Linked DNA regions of Homo sapiens. The protein of the gene in region 2 interacts with the protein of the main gene of each other region in a biochemical or structural test. Each region holds a gene or a part of one and is shown on either strand. Other genes may lie near its edges.

What was found. The genes of interacting proteins can lie anywhere in the genome.
Region 1: the proteins of RUNX2 (region 2) and DTX2 form a complex in vitro, tested with the Homo sapiens proteins (one study listed by BioGRID).

Annotation. Positions count from the first base shown.
Region 1 is NC_000007.14:76,499,697-76,503,239, forward strand, and holds part of DTX2 (probable E3 ubiquitin-protein ligase DTX2), read left to right. Parts: intron 1-744; coding exon 745-824; intron 825-2,508; coding exon of another isoform or gene 2,509-2,523; exon of another isoform or gene 2,524-2,538; intron 2,539-2,601; coding exon 2,602-2,760; intron 2,761-3,543. UniProt on the Homo sapiens protein: Regulator of Notch signaling, a signaling pathway involved in cell-cell communications that regulates a broad spectrum of cell-fate determinations.
Region 2 is NC_000006.12:45,425,771-45,429,422, forward strand, and holds part of RUNX2 (runt-related transcription factor 2), read left to right. Parts: intron 1-3,652. UniProt on the Homo sapiens protein: Transcription factor involved in osteoblastic differentiation and skeletal morphogenesis. Essential for the maturation of osteoblasts and both intramembranous and endochondral ossification.

The sequences.
Region 1 (3,543 bases), on a different chromosome or scaffold from region 2:
CGATCCTCACCAGCTCAGGAGCTTCTTGTCCGTAGGAGAGGCTTTACTGGATGTGGGGTTCGGTGTTTATGGAGATGCAGCCCTTCTCCCTCCAGCTTCGTGCACGTGTGCACAGACAGCGAGTGAGGCCGTCAGGGTGGGCTCCTGCCACGTCTTGGCCCCTCCCCAGAGTCGCTGGACTTAGGAGCTAGTCTGCATGTGACAGACCTTCCCAGTCAGTGGCAGGCGTTTCCCGGGACAGTGTCTGTGTGGCGGTCGGCGTGTGTGCAGCTGCCTGTACATGCTGGACCCCAGACTCCCTTGTCCCTGTGATGTTCATGCCAGGGTAATGCAAGTTGAATCAAATCGTGGTGCCACAACGCCCCCTGGAGTAGTTTGTGCCCGAAGCGGCTGTCTGACTCTTCCGCGCAGCCTCAGAAGCGCCGGGGTCGGTTCCTCACTCAATGTGCGCGGGGATGCGGCTCCCAGGAGACTGTGCTGCTGTTTCTGCTCTTCTGCATCCTCCATGGCTCCTGGGGCTGAGCCGGGTCCCCGGACGGTGGGACTGGGGAAGGCTTTGCCCGACGGAGCTCGGGGCTCTGTGCCTGGCGCTGAGCTCTCCCGTCCCGCACACTGGCCTCCCTGTCTGGGCCCCTCTCGCATTTCCTCCTGGCAGCTTAGACCTCTTCCTTCCCTTCCTCGCCCTCTGGCCTCCTCTCCAGCCTGTGCTCCTCAGGACGCTGCTTATGTACTTCTCTCTTCTAGGAGCGACCCCGAAGCCAGAGCCAGAGCCAGAGCAGGTCATAAAAAACTACACGGAAGAGCTGAAAGTGCCCCCAGATGAGGTTTGTGTCTTGGGACCTTGGCTGCCTTTGTTTCTGTTTGGAAACAACTCCACATGGAAAGGACATCCGCCCCATCTTGCTTGAAGGGTGCTTCCCAGGTGCCTCTGGGTGCCAGGGCCTTGCTCCAGCCCCTTTGGTTTCATCTCCCAGCCTCCCGAGACCCACATCGTTATGGTCTGAGCTTTGCACTTAAGGAGCTGTGGTCCTGAGCAAAGCCCCTCCTCTCCCGGCCCTGGCCTCTCCATAGCCTGATGGCCATCCTGGGAGCAGGAATTCCAGAGACAAGGGATGGGCCAGCCTGCCCCACTCTCCACCTTGCGGATGCTGGTGTAGAAGTGAGGTGGCCTCGTCCAGGTGGCTGTCCTGCCCCCCGGCTATTGGGAGAGCTGGTCAAGGTTCTTATAATTTTTTTATTCTTAAAGACGGGTGCACACTGTCGCCCAGGCTCAGTGCAGTGGCGTGATCACAGCTCACTGCAGCCCTGTCCTCCTGACCTCCTGTAATGAACAGGACCAATCAGACTCCTGTTGCGCTTCCATAGAACCTGAACCTCTACTGAGCCACGTTTTGGGGGCTGCAGCACCACTTTCCCCTGATTTTAGCTGGGAGCCCTGGAGATACTGTTGGGGGAGGGGGTGGGTGAACGGCCGGGAGTACCAGTACCCAGAGATCTTCAGATACTTGGGGGCGGGTGGAAGGCCAGGAGCCCCAGTACCCAGGGACTCTTCACTTGTCTCTTTCTCCAGTCTGTTGAGTCCATGAGAAAAATCTGGTAAGTAAAGGTTTGGAAAGGAGCCTGAACGTCCTCCTCATGTGTCCCACCCCTTCCACAAGCCCTTGCCACATTCCCGCCTGCCCAGCGCTCAGCTCTGTCTCGGCCCTGGTGTCCATCTGGTGTGACTGGGCCGTTTCACCCCAGGCTCCTCCTCTCCAAGCTGCCGTCTGCACAGCCAGCACGCAGCTTGGATCATGGGAGCACTCCCTGCCTGGAACCGCCAGCAGGACCCCCAACTCACACACAGCCCCAAGCCCCTGAGTGTGGCAGCCAGACCCCCGAGGGCGCGCCTCTCCCTGATCCTGTCTCATCTCCTGCTCCCAGCCCACCCCCTGCCAGCTTTAGTGCCCATGAGCTGGCTCCTCGTTCAGAACGTCCTCCTCCCTCTTCCGGGTGCCCACTCTGTGCTTGTCCATCTGGCAATTCCTGTCTCCCTTGTAAGACCCCACGCCGAGGGCCTCCCCCAGGATCCTGCCCTGTCCGTCCTCCCCATTTGGTGGCTTCTGCTGTCATGTCGGGCCTGTGCTGCTGGTAAGCCCTTCAGAGGCACAGGTCCCGGTGACTCACCTGTGTCTCCAGCCTGTGGAATGGACTTTTTTTTTTTTTTTTCTGAGACGGAGTCTCGCTCTGTCACCCAGGCTGGAGTGCAGTGGCACAATCTCAGCTCTGCAACCTCTGCCCCCTGAGTTCAAGCGATTCTCTTGCCTCAGCCTCCCGAGTAGCTGGGATTATAGGCACCTGCCAACACGCCCAGCTAATTTTTGTATTCTTAGTAGAGATGGGGTTTTCCCGTGTTGGCCAGGCTGGCCTCAAATTCCTGACCTCAAGTGATCGGCCTCCTAGAGTGCTGGGATTACAGGCCTGAGCCACTGCGCCTGGCCTCGGAATTGACTTTGACTGCACTTCCAGCATTTCAGCACATGAAAGCCTCTTTTTCCAAGACTGGCCCACGTCAGCCCAGCCCACTGTTGGCGAGCATGACCCATGTTTGGTCTCCTCCAGGACTGCATCATCTGCATGGAGAAGCTGTCCACAGCGTCTGGATACAGCGATGTGACTGACAGCAAGGCAATCGGGTCCCTAGCTGTGGGCCACCTCACCAAGTGCAGCCATGCCTTCCACCTGCTGTGCCTCCTGGCCATGTACTGCAACGGCAATAAGGTGCCCCCACTGGCCCAGGGCGGAGGCGGGTGGCCCGCCCCCACAGTCCTGAGCTGTCCCCTGCAGGGGCGGGAGGGTTCCGGGGGTGGCTGTAGGAATGGGCCTCTGCAAAAGATGGTGCTGGGCGTGGGGCCAGCTTGAAGACCTTTCTAAAGGCCTGGCCGGCTCTCCTAGGCCTGCCCTACTCTTCTAGGTCTGCCCCACACTTTAGAAAGGAGGACCAGTGCGGCTGGTTCCCTCCACCCCTCCAGCCAGGCCTGAGAAGATTCTGGGCTTCTCTGAGCCCCAGGGCACCGCCTCCCCCTCGGCCACTTGTAAGCACCGCAGACACTGTCTCCCTTCTTCCTTACAGCATCCCTGTGCAGTCAGCACAGTGCTCATGAGGGAGAGGCTCAGAGCAGGGGCTGTGCCCAGGGTCACCCCACTGGGAGGTGGGAGCCAGGCCTTGAGGCAGGGCTGATCCTGGGCCCCACAGCAGCCTACACATGAAGAGCCGCGCCCAGACTGACCCCCAGCTGCTCTCCCTGCATCGGCCTTCAGGCGGGATGGGCAGAGTTTAGAGGCTTAGAGAACCGAGTCATGTGGCGCATCGGAGCCTGGCTCGGCCTTCCCTAGTGTCTGCCATCCTGGGCAGCCAGGGCCCAGCTCCGCAGATCAGACGCTGCAAGGCTGTCTATCCGACTGCAAATGCGATTCACCCGTGGAGATTTCTGCTCAGGATCCGAGTTTTCCCACTCGCCACCTGTCTCCTGATAGCATGTCCCTTAACGAAAATGGCATGAG
Region 2 (3,652 bases):
AGAAGTCTCCCTTTTAAAAGTGGTGACAGCAATTTGGCCATGATATTTAGAGCTATGTAAAAAATAGATTATAGTGGTTGTCAGGTCAATAGCAGATAGGTAAATGGATTTAAACACACACATACACACACACACACACAACTTATTTGTTGTGAAGTCTGATATTCAAATCAATACAATATTTATTGAGCCCGTATTTTGTATCTGTCACACTGAGCTTGACACCGCAGAGAATCAGAAATGAATTCAATAGACTGTTTTGAAATGTCAGTTTAAACTCGTGTTTAAACACGATATTGTCAATCTATTTCATTAAGAATGTATTAGCGTTGTTCATCTACTCTTGTTTCGAGATGATATAAAATTTATTTATTTTTACATGTAAAAATGCAAAAACAACTGGTATACTTTATATAAAGTTGTTTATTAACATTGTATTTTTAACAAAGTTCTGCAGTTTTGAAATGTTCGGTCCCCCCAGGTGTCAAGGAAACGGAAATAAATATTTTTAACATTTTCAGGTGTATCTCACTGAAACCTTAAAATAGTTAGGGCATACTATTAGAGGATCCCAGACCCTTTCTATCCTAGATAATTCTAGTGACAAAGAAGTAATTTGCAAATTCAGCTCATTAGCTGATGGTCAGGTAACGGTGGAGAGAGCGTGTCAACCATGCATCCAGTAGCACCCTTTTAGTTAGGGGTCTGTCAGCATTTCCACTGTGAAGCCTGGTGTTCAGGGTTCGTAACTTAGTTGCCTTAAATAGCTTCAAGCTGAAACACTATGCAGAAATTTTAAGTCCAGATGTATATTTTAAAACTAAAAGTAGTTCAAGTCTATTCTGCTGTTTTAAGTTAGAGAACACTGGACTACATATATTTATCAGTATCATATGTTTTTCTGGCAGTGTTAAAGAAAGAAAACACATTTTTAGATATATAAGCTAGCACTCATAGTTAATTCTGTATATTTAATAATACCTTTCAGTGCTTGTCAAAAGGAGGGGTTTCAAAATGACAGAGCAATTTCTGTTTGAAAATAAATTTTTGGCATCACTAGCCATTTTTCTCTCTTCGAAAACAAATATACAACTGGTAAATACTTGATACCAGTGAGTAGTATTTTTCTTACATAGTTAATGATCAGATTTTATGTTTATATTTTTTGAATCTCATTGTATCTAAACTAGGGAAAATAGGTTGTTAAGCCTGTTAAATCCTTATTAACCGTAATATAAATTATTATGCAAAATTATGTAAATCAATAGATTTCAAGTTGTGTGAAGACAGACACATTTTTGTGTTATGCCTTTGAATTCAAGAAAACTTATTTAAAGTTAAATATTTTGGGACTGAATATATAAAACTTCTAAGTAAGGAAGTTGGAACAAAGAATTTCAGGTGGAAAATAAATACTTATAAAATTTTTTAGAAAACTTCTATTAAATATTTGAAAATAGGTATGGTAGATATCTTTCATTATTTTTTCCTCTTTGGCATTATTGTTTGTATCCTTTCAAAATTCCAGAATATCTATTGTTAGATGATCTAAACCACCATGATACATGGCCCACAAATTGCTGCTTTACATTGAAATAATTTTTATCAAAATTTATCTTTGACATATATATTTTTAAAATTATGAAATGACATATTGTGTTTTTTCTCTAAAATTCAATGGGCTTTTCCTAAGTTCTAGGATAAATTCAAAATATTAACTGTAGTATTTGTTGAAATGTTTTGATACTGTATTTGAAGTTATCTTTAAGTAATTGTGATAGGAATAACATTTTTGCTTTTTGCAATTAGTCTCACTTCTCTTTTTATTGCAAAGAAAGATTTGATCAGATTTTATCTTGAAAAATAATTATATTTCAATTATACCGCAAGTACAATATCCTGAATTATTTTGGCCTATAAGAGTAATTGATTAGTTAAGACTAGACTTCTGTCCATGGAAATGTCATAGGCAATTTTAATTTCCATATAAAAAGATGAGAAACTGTTTTAAGGGTTTGAGTTAATTCTCCATTCCTCTTCTTTTAGTGATTCACAGATTTAGTCATAAGGAGTCTCATACAAAATTTCAATAGCATTACTACAGTTAAATATCCTTCTACTTTATTTTGTGCAAGCCACATATCATGTGATTTAAATGCTAGTTATGGTGAGGTGCGCTAAATAAAGGAACGTCTTTCTCTATTCTGAAATGTCAGGACAGAAAATTACTTCTCCTTTTCTCATGGAGTTTCTTGAATTTGTAGATTTTATATTTTAAAAAAACATAGAAATGTAATTGTTAAGATCATCACAAATTATTCTTTGCAGAGCAGTACTTTTGTATTGGGTAGGATGGAAGCAAATTCTAATTTGTGCTTATTCCTAACTAGTTAAAGAGCGAGTTTTGACTGCACTTTACCCCTTCAAATGTTTTTCCATTGCTTGGTTTTGGTACAGATGAAATGTGTAAAAATTTCTTGATTCTTTTGGTTTTCTTTTAGATAAACACAGTTGAGAATCTCCAAGGGAAACTTTTTAGCTTCAGAGATCTACTTAAAGAAAAAACCTCTCAAACATATAATTATACTTCTGATTGATATAAAGTCAAATACAGTACTTCCCCCAACTCCCAACCTTTTCTCCCCCTCAGAAAAACATCGGGCAATCTGATTTGGTAGAGTGAATAGCAGAAAAAAAACCAATATATTTAGCCATTAAACTAGAGTTCAGCTTTAACAGGAAAGATTGTCACTACCTTGCATTAGCATTTTTTTTCAGGTCTTGCTCTCAGCCTCATAGAAGGCTCACACAACTTGTGATTATTTATTTGTTTTGTAAAATGTGATACGTAAAACACACTAATATTGAATATGGTCATTATTATACTGCTTAAGCACAGTAAAATGGATGTATGTATTTCACTCTTAGGGATCTTTTCTTTCATATTTTCCCATATTGAATCAATTTTCCATTTCTTCTAACTAAAAAAAAATTCATTATGTTAAAAATATGCAGTAAAATAATAATGTCCCAGAGTTCTTGAAAACCTTTATATTGGGGCAGATTGCTTTTTTTTTTTTTTTTTCGGAAATGTAGCCAGACTTGAGTGAAATCCACCAGCAGTCATCCTGTATCTCTCAACAACATCAAAGAACATCTCAGAACATGAAGTGAGGAAGTACGTACTCAGTTGAACCCTTTAAGAATGCTTATAAGTAAAAGCCTATGTTTAACAGACAGCAGATTTGGAACAGAACACTGTGTTACCCTCCTCATCTTACAAAAAGCACATCATTATAATTACACTCTATACTTATATAGTATCTTCTACATTTTGCAGACTTTCCAATTCATATTGGAAAACTGTGGTTCCTGGAGATGAAGTTATTTTGTGTGAGGTCATAGCAGATATGTAGCAGAAGTGGGGAAAAAGTGGAGCCTCTTGATTTTGGTATATTCATTCTCTTCTAAACAGTACAACTTTTCTCCTGCCTTTATTAATATGCTTACTGGGTCCATATTTACTTTGACATAGAAAGCCACGCAGCAGGTGTTAAAATACAATATGCTGAGTGTACAAAATGTCAAACATTCAGATGAATCCTGGCGAATGTAGTCAATTATTGCAGTATTTTCAAATGTTCACATTTTT